Linked DNA regions of Homo sapiens: all the other regions are linked to region 2. Evidence: fine-mapped expression QTL. A gene starts in region 2. Each other region holds a variant in brackets. All regions are shown on one strand. Distances are from middle to middle.

The links. PIP is the estimated chance that this variant, and not a neighbour inherited with it, causes the effect.
Region 1: its variant is the best candidate, but not a certain one, in a credible set for the expression of MLLT10 in whole blood (INTERVAL, PIP 0.77).
Region 3: its variant is the best candidate, but not a certain one, in a credible set for the expression of MLLT10 in whole blood (INTERVAL, PIP 0.54).

Annotation. Positions count from the first base shown.
Region 1 is chr10:21,623,877-21,628,065 of GRCh38, forward strand. All of the region lies in intron 8 of MLLT10 (MLLT10 histone lysine methyltransferase DOT1L cofactor), which reads left to right. It also overlaps the pseudogene HNRNPRP1. Among named protein-coding and RNA genes, the nearest start is that of MLLT10, 92 kb to the left of the region's middle. The variant A/G (reference allele first, on the strand shown) is at 2,165.
Region 2 is chr10:21,532,660-21,536,848 of GRCh38, forward strand. It overlaps MLLT10 (MLLT10 histone lysine methyltransferase DOT1L cofactor), which reads left to right and starts at 1,573. Exons shown (of 23, transcript NM_001195626.3): 1 at 1,573-1,861; 2 at 1,986-2,145. The coding sequence starts at 1,986. RefSeq lists enhancers at 1,142-1,855, 2,571-3,283, 3,547-4,060 and silencers at 1,221-1,750, 1,761-1,830, 1,941-2,280, 2,421-2,510.
Region 3 is chr10:21,832,302-21,836,490 of GRCh38, forward strand. The region is part of intron 8 of DNAJC1 (DnaJ heat shock protein family (Hsp40) member C1); the gene reads right to left. Among named protein-coding and RNA genes, the nearest start is that of DNAJC1, 170 kb to the right of the region's middle. The variant G/A (reference allele first, on the strand shown) is at 2,291.

The sequences.
Region 1 (4,189 bases), 91 kb after region 2:
GTGGTTAGAAGAAAATGGAGTTATGTTGACTTTTAATCTATGGTTCTTTTTTTTTAATAGATTTTTTTAGTTTTATTGAAATCTTACATGAACAGGAAATTGGAAATACAATCACATCAAAGAACAAATTGTCATGGCTTTTGACGTTTAAGCCAAACAAATTTTGTAGGGCAGATTTCAAAATGGTGTGAAGTTATAACAATTTAAAAACACAGTTAACCTACTTCTAAAAATGCAAAACATACGATCATAGGTTATTTTCAGTATAAGAAAACTTAAATGTGTTTGCTTTAATTTCTTAAAACTACTAAGACATAGCACTAGCTTGTATTTTTATTTACAGCATACTCCATACTCCTATGTAATCTATCCTAGATCCAAAAAAATGAAATTCTTCAAAACCACAGGTTCTGCAAAATCATGACTTAACAGTGTGTTCAGCTTGTTTTGAAGCTAAAATGAAGCCCGAAATGATAAAAACATAACTCCCAGAATAAGGGAACTCTGTAAGCCCAATAATGTCCAAGAGCATTTATGAAAAGAGGAAAAATAAAAAGGCCTGAGTATATACACAATAGTGATTTCTTCAGCCCAATACAAATGGCAGCAAATTGCTACTTAAAGATGAAACAGTTAAACAAAATTTTTTTTGAAGAATGTAGATCTAGAGCCAGTCGTATCTTGCCATTATCATTTTCAAGCCCTTACTTGTCTGCTTCCACTGTTGCCCATAAGTATCCTGATAAAATTCCTGGTTGTCATTATTGTAACCATAGTTACCAGAATAGTCACCACCTTGCTGAAGCGGCTGCTGAGCGATGGGTTGAGAGACCCAGTTCTGTTGTTTGTTGGTCTGACGATGCTTGGAATCAGGTTGGTTGTAAGCATCTGCCTTCTCTTGCGTCCTACATTGTCCCCTGATTGCCCTGAGATCCACGGGAACCACGGCCACGGCCTCTCTGCTGTTGTGCAGGACCCCCTCTGCCACCCCTACAGCCTCGTGGTGGTCCCAAAGGTGCCCCCTTTTGTGAATAGCCAGCTCTACCTCTTGGAGGTGGTGCTCCCCTCCCCCTTGGTGGTGGTGAAGCACCCTGCCCTCCCCTTCCTCCTCTTCCTCTTACTGCATAGCCACCATCATAGCCATAGTAGGGAATCTTCGTAACCTCCTTGATAGATGTGGTAATCATAACTGTAGTAATCTTCATGCCATAGTAATCTGGAGGTTAGCCATATCCACCTCTCCCCCAACCTCTAATCGGAAGCGGCATGCGAGGAGGAGGGTGTAGTGATAATCTTCATATGCAGTGCTTCTGGAGGCCTGTCTAGCAGCTTGGCGCTCTTTCCTTTTCTTGTCTGGTGCCTTGGCTAAGACTATTTCAAGTTCTTCCCCTTCTGTTTCTTTGCCATTCATTTCATCCATAGCCATAACAGCTGCTCGTCTGTCTTCAGAATGAACAAATGCATAATCTTTCAACTTATTTACTCTTTGGAGTTCTCCAAATTCAGAAAATGACTTTTCCAATATTTCGTCTGTGCCCAAGTTTCTCACAAAGAATACTTTTACCTTAGCCATGACTTCTGGATATGGTTCTTCACAGGGTCAGCCCATTCAACTGTAACTACATTTCCCCATACTTTTACTTTTCCAGCATCTGGCTTGTACTGCTGACTTGTGATCCTCACATTTAAGGAAGCAGAACCCCCATTTCTTCTTTTTGTCATCAGGTTGATCATAGAGAATGACGTCCACCAAACCCTCTGTGACTTTACTGAATTCTTCCAGAGTGTTTTCTTTAGTCTTATTCTTCAGAATGGATCCAACAAAAGTCTGTTGTTTGCCACAGAAATGCGCACTCCATGTTGTTTACCAGGGCGAATTTCATAGCTGTCACAGTTTCACAGCTTCCTGTGCAGCTTCCTTTCCACAGAAAGTGGTAAATGCCTACCCTCTATTCTGACCAGACAGTGGATCTATGATAAGACGTAGATCCCAAATGGGACTGGCCTTCTCAAAAAGGGGCACCAACTCATCCTCATATACATCTCTTGGTATTTTACCTACAAACACCTCTGTTCCAATTCTAGGTTGCACACCAGAGTACACACTGTTTGGTGGAGGCCCACCATACTTCCTCTGTCCTGTGGTTACATTCAGAGTATAATC[A/G]TTTCTCTCAAGCAAGGCCTTGATCTTCACTTCATCAGGTCCCTTTGTGGACTCTTGCACCTAGCTCCCCTGTTTCTCTCTCTGCCTGTAGGTCTTCATAACTCCACATAAAAATGCACTTTTGTTCTGAACATGTGATAAGTCACTTTCCTTGAACTGCTGTAGTACAGACAGAGCTCCTTCTTTATTAAATTCCCTGAGAGCATCAATTGCTCTTTCATCAAGATCGATACAAGCTATCAATCCAGGGCAGAGCAGGGGCTGGTGGCTGGGCCCGTGAGAACCAGTGCAAGGCATTTTGAAAATGACTAGAAATCTCGCACGCGTGCCACCCCCCAAGTCTATGATTCTTATGTTTACATGGCAAAGAAGCTGAAGGGGAAGCAGGTACGTGTGCAGAACGGGAGACCAAACATGAGAGGCAGCCTTCTAATCTATTCCTGCAAGAATCAACCCAGCCTCATGAAAGCTGCATTAATACATTCATGAGGGTAGTAGTCCCGTAACCCAAACGCCTTTTAATGGCCCCATCAGCTCTCAATAGTGTCACATTGGCAAATTTCAACATGAGTTTTGGCAGGAACACACCACACTTAAACCATAGAATAGGATTACTCACCTCTTTGAAGAGAGCTAGACTACTTTCTTCTGTGGCCCTCAAAGGAATAAAACTCTCAGTCATATCATTGGAATGACTTCTCTTTGTCTTTGTAAAAGTTTTCTAGCATTGAGAGTTACCTGGTACCTGCCCTTTTTGTGTACTTTCCTTTTGGAATTTTGTGCTCAAGTTGAACCTTTCAGCATCTGTATATGTGAAGAGTTAAGAGAGGACAGGTCTTTTCAGGAACATCAGTTTAGAATGTGAGGGTGTGTTGGGTGAGACTGAAGAGTATGGTAACATGAGACTAGCTAAGAAGAGGCTAGTTTATGAAGAATTTATAAGCAGTTAGAGTTTTAGACTTCGTCCTTGGGCATTGAGCCAGGCAGCCAGTAGGATTAATTTTTTTTTTTAAACTTTTGGTTTTTTCAATAGTTTCAAACTTAAAGTTGCAAAAATACTACAAATAATAATGCTGTACTACTCACTCATTCCAAAAATGTTAACATTTTACCATATTAATGTTACCATGTCCTTCGCTCTACCCTCCTTTGCTATCTCTCTCACTCTCTTTCTCCTCTACTCTCTGTAGAATCTTTCTGAACCATTGCAGGGTAAATTACAAATAACAATGCCTCTTTAGCCCAAGTACTAAAGTGTATAGTTTTAATTAAAAGGGGAATTTCCTAAACAATTACAGTACAGTGATCAAAATCAATAAATTAATATTGTTACAGATTATTATCTAATCTACAGATCATATTCAAATTGCAGCCACTGATGTCATCTACACCAAAGGGGGAAACATTTTTCTCTTCCATGTCCAGGATCCAATCCAAGATCACAAGTTGCATTTAGCTGTCATGTCTATTCAGTATTTCCCAGTTTGGAATATGTCCTTATTCATTGTCTTTTGTGACCTTGACATCTCTTAAAGTCCTATTTCAGGTTATCTGAGGTATTGCCTTCTGTCTTTCTTAGGTCTTAAAAAAGGGGTTTGTAGCCATACTCTTTTTTAAATCTTCATACAGCTGTTTTCTAACAGTGGCCTAGATTTTATCTTTCTCTGGGAGCCATTCTTTGATTTGAGCATTGTTTGCTATCTGCAGAGACTGGAAATTTTTAAAACCAGCAAGTCTTGGCTCTTTTTTTTTGGTCAACAGTCTTTTCATTAACTTATTTCTGTACTCCTGCTTTTTACTATAAACAGTAAGAAATAATTAGACTGCATCTTCCACCGAATACCTAGAAATCTCCTTGTTAAATTATGCAACTCATTAAATACATTTTCTATTTTTCATGTTACCACAGGCAAGGTTGTGCCTAAACTTTCAGTTACTAATTATGAAGTATTCAGCTTCTTCCAATTTTCAGTTACCTTTTTCTCACTTTGGTTTAAGCCTTTAGTAGCAGCCTGCTAAGGGCCA
Region 2 (4,189 bases):
TTTTCTAAATGCACTATGTGAATTCTCATTGTTTTAGTGTATATTTTAATTGCCATTACTTTGTATATCTCAGCTTTTAAAACATCTGAATTTGCTATATATGCTCTCATTGTGCTGTATACCTATTATCACTCTTACACAGATTTCTAGCAATTAATTTGAAATAGAAAAACAGCCATGATACCTTTTCTAACCCCCCTTTATCAGAAGAACATTTAGAAGGCTTTTAAAGCCCAAACCATTATATTATCTTTTGGCGACCGACTAGGAGAACTTGGGTTCTCTATGCTTTAGCACTGTGAAAGTGCATCTTCCAGATCAGCACATTTATAATGCGAATTGCTGATAAAGAACCATTTTGTACCTGCAAGGTATTAATCAAAAGTCATGAATTCGCCTTTTAACTGGGCTTGTCATTTAAACAATCTATGCATAATTCTGATTTCATGCGAAACTTTTCTAATTAGACATTTTTTGCTTAAACATCAATATTGGGCTTTACGGATGCATAAGGAATAGGCAGACAGTGGAAGATTTTAGTTTAAAAGTGCTCAGCATCCAGCTAATTAATCTATGCAGATAGGCCTAATCCATTTTCCATTTGTTTGTGAGGTGGGAGCTCTCATCTTTCTGCCACTTTTAAATGACCTCACATTTCCAAGTATAAATTTGGAGAAAAGACCCGGATCAGAGGAATCCTCCATCAAAACTGGACGCCACTGTCTGATGGCGTTAATTATGTTTTAGCGACTGACTAGGAGGGCTAGAGTTCCTTCTTCCTTTTGGTGTAATACAACTGCATTTTCCGGATCATCGTATTATATTGCTAATTCCGGATAAACCACCATTTGTCCTGCACACCGAGCTGAGGGGCGCCTTGGCGTTCCCTCTCCGAGTGCAGCCCTAACACAGGCTTTTGACCTTCAGCCTGGAATACACTTTCGTTTGTCATTGGGGCCCACGTAGTGCGAAAATGGGCGGCAGATTTGGTAGGACTTCCAGCGGGTGAACTTTGGGAAGAGTCCAGGACGTGAATTTAATGGGTGGAGTGGCTGCGGCAGCACTGTGAAGTTAGCGCGGCCAACTGCAGGAAGCCATGCTTCATTACACCCTTCATGGAAGCTGGCACACTCGCCCCACCCTCGTTTTCCACGGGCCAGTCTTGGAGGAAAAGGCCAGCAGGTAGGTTCCCAGGGCACGGAGATGATGCCCCCGGGGACTCCCCTCTGGCGATTCTGAGAAAACCCCTTCCCAGCCCTGGGCGTCCACCTCCCCCGCCACCTCCCAGGCCTCTTCCCGACGCTCACACGCGGCCCGCGCCACCAGCGCTGCAGAGGGCGGCCCTAACGTCCCCGCCCCCGCGTGCGCGCCCCCGCGCCCGTTCATTCCGGCCTCCGCGCGCCGCCGGCTCCCCTCGCGCCCACCCCCAGCACACCTCGGCGGCGGCGAGCGGCGCGGGGGAGGGGGACGGGGCCCCGGAGGTAGGCCGGGGGCAGCCAACAGGCCGCGGCAGCGCGCACGCAGGGCTAGCCTCGCCCAGGCCTCCTCCCTCACGCCGGCCGCAGGACGGGCGCGCACGCCAAGTGACGCTCCGAGGAGGAAGCGCAGCCCCCTTCCCCTCCCTCGCTGCCCCTGGCCCAGCGGGAGCCCCCCCTCCCCCCAGTGCGCCTGTGCGGAGGCCCTCTTGATTATGTGTGCCCTCTCCGGGCGCCCGCGTTAGCGGCCGGGTGGAGGTGGGGAGGGAAGACGCTGAGGAGGAGGAGGAGGCGGAGGAGGCGGTGGAGGGGAGGTGGGGGGAATCAGCAAGGACATGGCTCCTGACTCCTGTGCGGAACGTGAGTGACTGAGCGGCAAAGCCCGAGTGAGCGAGCGGTGGGCTGCCGGGCCGGGCGGGGGGCGCCGGGGCGGGCTCGGGGGGCTGTGTGGGGGGGAAGCACTAATCGGCTTGCATGTGTTTTTTAATGGTCCCCCCAACTCCCTCTTAGATGGTCTCTAGCGACCGGCCCGTGTCACTGGAGGACGAGGTCTCCCATAGTATGAAGGAGATGATTGGAGGCTGTTGCGTTTGCTCAGACGAGAGAGGCTGGGCCGAGAACCCGCTGGTTTATTGCGACGGGCACGGCTGCAGCGTCGCGGTGCATCAAGGTAAACACCCAACCGCCCGCCGGGGCGCGCCGGCCTGCGCCCAACGGTCACCGCCGCCCCCACCTGGGCCGCAACCGCCGGCGCCCCCGCCCCGTGCCGCGGCCGCGGGAGGGACGCGGAGGGTCCGCGGCGGGGCGCGGGGGGTGTGGGCCGCGCATGTGGGAGAAAGTGCGTGTGGCCCGGACTGTCATGTGATTCCGCTCTCACTCTCTCAAGTGTCATTCGGCCGCCGCCTGCGCCTGGGGCCGGGGTCTGCTGACTCGGCGGGGCGGGGCGGGGCAGGGCGGCGGCCGCGCCCTCGAGATCTGGGCCGGGGTGGGGGCGGGGGCGGGGGCGGGGGCGGTGCGCGCCCTTCCCGGGGTTCCCGGGGCCACGGGGGTGGGTTTGGGAGAGTGGAGCGCCCTCTTCTCCCCTGGCCTGCAGCCGCCTGTCTGCCGCAGTGTTTGGAGACTTCCTGTGGCGTGGAGACGGGCTCGGGAACGCGGCGCCAGTGTGGGGAGGCTGGGGGTCGCCTTGCCTCTTTAGATGGGGAGGGATGCGGGGCCCGTTGCACCCCGAGCCAGAAGGCTCGGGCCCTGCCGCCGCCGCCCGGTAGCTGTCTGCGGAGGAGATGGCGGAGTCCGTTGCTGACCATGCGGGAGTGGCGGGGCTGCTGCAGCGCCTGTGGGGTGGCCGCGGCAGGCCACCACCAGCCTAGGTGGCTGAAGAGGTGGCGGTGCCAAGTCACTTTTGGGGAGCCTCTTAGTTTATTTCTGGTTGTTAACAATTGATGAGGTTTTTGGATATACAAGAAGGCCGAGGACACTAGTAAGATACTTTTCTGGCCTTTGAAGTGGCCGACTTTTCCCCATTTCACGTGGTAAGGAATCCAGGACAAAACAGTCTATATTCTTTTTTGGTGGCTCCATGTCCCTTCGCATTTCTGAATCTGGCATTAAGCGATGCATATGTTTTTAGTAGTCTGTTGGAAAGGACTACCACCAAAAGGGAGACGAAAATTTGAACATCTGCTAAAGTGCATTTTGTAGAGAAACGAATGTCACACTTGGAAAGGGAGACTTTAGAAGCAGTGGTGATGATTCTGAGGTAGTGTACTTACTCTGAGAATGCTGTTTATTCCCAGACTTTTATTTTTTTACTTTTTATTTTGTTGAGACGGAGTCTTGCTCTGTCACCCAGGCTGTAGTGCAGTGGTGCCATCTCAGCTTACTGCAACCTCTGCCTCCTGGGTTCAAGCGATTGATTCTCCTGCCTCAGCTTCTTGAGTAGCTGGGATAACAAGCACACCCTAGCACACCGGCTAATTTGTATTTTTTAGTAGAGACGGGGTTTCGCCATGTTGGCCAGGCTGGTCTCAAATTCCTGACCTCAGGTGATCCTCTTGCCTCGGCCTCCCAAAGTGCTGGGATTACCGGCGTCAGCCACTGCGCCTGGCCCTAGACTTTTAAAGAAGAGCCAAGTTGCATGTCTTGCTTTTTTAGGGAGTGAATACAATGCGTGTCAAACCAGATACTGATTTTAAGGTCATCCCATGTTCATTGGCATTTTGAAGGCCAATGAATTTCTTATGAATTGGAATTTCTTATGAATTGGATGATAAACTATCAAAATTTGATAATTTCTATGTCCCAATATAGAAAATTTTTATTCAAATCTTAAATTTTCCTTCCTAGAAGTACACCTGAATAAAGTTTTTGGGCAATGATGCTGTGTTTTGGACACCTATGCTGTGTTTTTTGACGGATAGAGCATTTATAGTGAGACACATTTTACAAATTCTGTTTTTTTGAGACAGGGTCTCACTTTGTGGCTCAGGCTGGCATGCAGGGTGCTATTACAGCTCACTGCAGCCTTGACCTTCCAAGCCATCTTCCCACTTCAGCCTTCCCAGTAGCTGGGACCACAGGCCTGGACAACCATGTCGGGCTAATTTTGTATTTTTGGTAGAGGTGGGATTTCACCAGGTTGCCCAGGTTGGTCTTGACTTTTTTTTTTTTGAGACAGAGTTTTGCTCTTGTTGCTCAGGCTGGAGTGCAATGGTGCC
Region 3 (4,189 bases), 300 kb after region 2:
GTTTTTCTTCTATGTGCTTCCCTGGTTTTAGCCATCAAATGTATGTCAAGGTCCCCAGTAGTTACATCTCTAGTTCTGATTTCTTAAATTCTACATTAACAACTATCTGCTGAATGTTTCCTGATGTATGTCCCATTTGCATCATAAACTTAGCACATACCAAACTGATTACATATCATTCTCTCTGCCAAACTATCACCTCCTAACCATGCCCCATATTTTTTTAATGGTAACTGTCTCTTCCAATCACCAAGTAGGCATTTTTACTTCTTCCTCCTCCTTATTGCATTATCCAATCAACTGATTTCTTGAATCCTGAACATTCAAGATTTGTCCAGTCTCTCCCCTGGTCTCTATTTCTGTTAGCTACTTCACTCAGGAATTTATTATCTCTTACTAAGACTATTGCAAAAATCTTCTAATGGGTCCTTCTCTTCCCTTTGATCTTATATACTTTTGCAGTGAAATATTTCTAATATGTGGACAACATCACTTCACCTTCTGTATGATTTAAACACTCTAACCTCTCATTCAAGATCTATGATTTGGCTGCGACCTACTTTTACAAACATATTTTCTCTTTATCATTTCAAGAATCCTTTGACCCAGCTAAACTAAATTACTCACTGTTCCTGATGATATGCTCTGAGTAGTTCTGTCTCAAGAGTGATTTATTCCTTAGTTTCTGGAATGTTTTCCCCACCCCACTTCTAAATCTTTCATAAAAATTTTTGGTTTTTTCCTAGGTGGAAGTAATCTTGCCATCTGCTAAACTGCAATAGTACTTTAAACCTCTCACAAAGTACACCTCAAAATATGCTTATTTAGCTCTTTGTCTGACCTTTTCAACTACATGATATAGTGACAGTGGTTAAGAGCATGAGTTCTGGCTGGGCGCAGTGGCTCAGGCCTCTAATCCCAGCACTTTGGGAGGCTGAGGCAGGTGGATCACAAGGTCAGGAGTTTGAGACCAGCCTGGCCAACACAGTGAAACCCCATCTCTACTAAAAATACAAAAAATCAGCTGGGCATGGTGACGGGCGCCTGTAATCCCAGCTATTTGGGAGACTGAGGCAGGCGAATCAATTGAACCTAGGAGGCGGAGGTTGCAGTGAGCCGAGATGGTGCCATTGCACTCCAGCTGAGGCAACAGTGTGAGACTCTGACACAAAAAATAAAATAAAAATAAATAAATTTAAAAAAGCATGAATTCTGAAACCAGTGAAGTGGGTGTGAATCACGGCTATGTCATGTATTAGCTAAGCAGTGTGGGAGAATTTACCTTGCCTCTCAGTTTTCTCCTGTGTAAAATGAAGAAAATAATAGCATCTACCAAATGGAGTTGCTGTGAGAATCAAATAAGTTAATACACATGAAGTGCGCAGAACAGTACCAGGCACACAGTAGCCACTTAATAAATGTTAGCTAATATTCAGGACAAAATTCAGTATGTCTTATTTATCACTGTACCACCCACTCACACTCTTCCACCAGCAGATAGATGGCAACTGTTTTTTATTAAAAAAATTACCACCAACAAAATACTATATAATGTAAAGCATTATACAACCAAATACAAGATTAAGTGGCACAGAAATGTGCTACTAGAAATCAGACAGGGGAAAGATCACTGTAGGGTAAGTTTGTAAAAAAAAATACTTTATGAAAGAGGGGTTCCCCAGGCCAGGTGCGGTGGCTCACACCTGTAATCACAGCACTTTGGGAGGCTGAGGTGGGCGGACCACGAGGTCAGGAGATCGAGACCATCCTGGGTAACACGGTGAAACCCCATCTCTACTAAAAATACAAAAAATTAACCGGGCACGGTGGCGGGCGCCTGTAGTCCCAGCTACTCGGGAGGCTGAGGCAGGACAATGGCGTCAACCTGGGAGGTGGAGCTTGCAGTGAGCTGAGATCGTGCCACTGCACTCCAGCCTGGGCGACAGAGCAAGACTCCATCTCAAAAAAAAATAAGAAAGAAAGAAAGAGGGGCTCCCCAGTGAAACGTTGTTTAAAAGACCTAATGTGGACTAAGGAGAGGAGCCAAGATGGCCGAATGGGAACAGCTCTGGTCTACAGCTACCAGCGTGAGCAACGCAGAAGATGGGTGATTTCTGCATTTTCAACTGAGGTACCGGGTTCATCTCACTGGGGAGTACCAGACAGTAGGTGCAGGACAGTAGGTGCAGCGCACCGTACGCGAGCCGAAGCAGGGCGAGGCATCGCCTCACCCTGGAAGCCCAAGGGGTCAGGGAATTCCCTTTCCTAGTCAAAGAAAGCAGTGACAGAC[G/A]GCACCTGGAAAATCGGGTCACTCCCACCCTAATACTGCACTTTTCCAACGGACTTAAAAAACGGCACACCAGGAGATTATATCCCGCACCTGGTTCAGAGGGTCCTAAGCCCATGGAGTCTCGCTCATTGCTAGCACAGCAGTCTGAGATCAAACTGCAAGGTGGCAGCGAGGCTGGGGGAGGGGCACCCGCCATTGCCAAGTTAGTTGTTTGATTAGGTAAACAAAGCAGCCAGGAAGCTCGAACAGGGTGGAGCCCACCACAGCTCAAGGACGCCTGCCTACCTCTGTAGGCTCCACCTCTGGGGACAGGGCATAGACAAACAAAAAGACAGCAGTAACCTCTGCAGACTTAAATGTCCCACTCTGACACCTTTGAAGAGAGTAGTGGTTCTCCCAGCACGCAGCTTGAGATCTGAGAATGGGCAGACTGCCTCCTCAAGTGGGTCCCTGATCCCCGAGAAGCCTGTCTGGGAGGCACCCCCCAGTAGGGGCGGAATGACACCTCACACAGCCGGGTACTCCTCTGAGACAAAACTTCCAGAGGAACGATCAGACAGCAGCGTCTGGGGTTCACCAATATCCGCTGTTCTGCAGCCACCGCTGCTGATACCCAGGCAAACAGGGTCTGGAGTGGACCTCCAGCAAACTCCAACAGACCTGCAGCTGAGGGTCCTGTCTGTTAGAAGGAAAACTAACAAACAGAAAGGACATCCACACCAAAAACCCATCTGTACGTCACCATCATGAAAGACCAAAGGTAGATAAAACCACAAAGATGGGAAAAAAACAGAGCAGAAAAACTGGAAACTTTAAAAATCAGAGCACCTCTCCTCCTCCAAAGGAATGCAGCTCCTCACCAGCAAGGGAACAAAGCTGGATGGAGAATGACTTTGATGAGTTGAGAGAAGAAGGCTTCAGACGATCAAACTACTCCGAGCTAAAGGAGGAAATTCGAACCAACGGCAAAGAAGTTAAAAGCTTTGAAAAAAATTAGACGAATGGATAACTAGAATAACCAATGCAGTGAAGTCCTTAAAGGACCTGATGGAGCTGAAAACCAACACACGAGAGCTACGTGACGAATGCAGAAGCCTCAGTAGCCGATGCGATCAACTGGAAGAAAGGGTATCAGAGATGGAAGACGAACTGAATGAAATGAAGCGAGAAGAGAAGTTTACATAAAAAAGAATGAAAAGAAACGAACAAAGCCTCCAAGAAATATGGGACCATGTGAAAAGACCAAGTCTACGTCTGATTGGCGTACCTGAAAGTGACAGGGAGAATGGAACCAAGTTGGAAAACACTCTGCAGGATACTGTCCAGGAGAACTTCCCCAATCTAGCAAGGCAGGCCACCATTCAAATTCAGGAAATACAGAGAACACCACAAAGATACTCCTTGAGAAGACCAACTCCAAGACACATAATTGTCACATTCACCAAAGTTGAAATGAAGGAAAAAATGTTAAGGGCAGCCAGAGAGAAAGGTCGGGTTACCCACAAAGGGAAGCCCATCAGACTAACAGCGGATCTCTCGGCAGAAACTCTACAAGCCAGAAGACAGCGGGGGCCAATATTCGACATTCTTAAAGAAAAGAATTTTTAACCCAGAATTTCATATCCAGCCAAACTAAGCTTCATAAGTGAAGGAGAAATAAAATCCTTTACAGACAAGCAAATGCTGAGAGATTTTGTCACCACCAGGCCTGCCCTAAAAGAACTCCTGAAGGCAGCACTAAACATGGAAAGGAACAACCAGTACCAGCCACTGCAAAAAACATGCCAAACTGTAAAGACCATCAAGGCTAGGAAGAAACTGCATCAACTAACGAGCAACATAACCAGCTAACATCATAATGACAGGATCTAATTCACACATAAAAATATTAACCTGAAA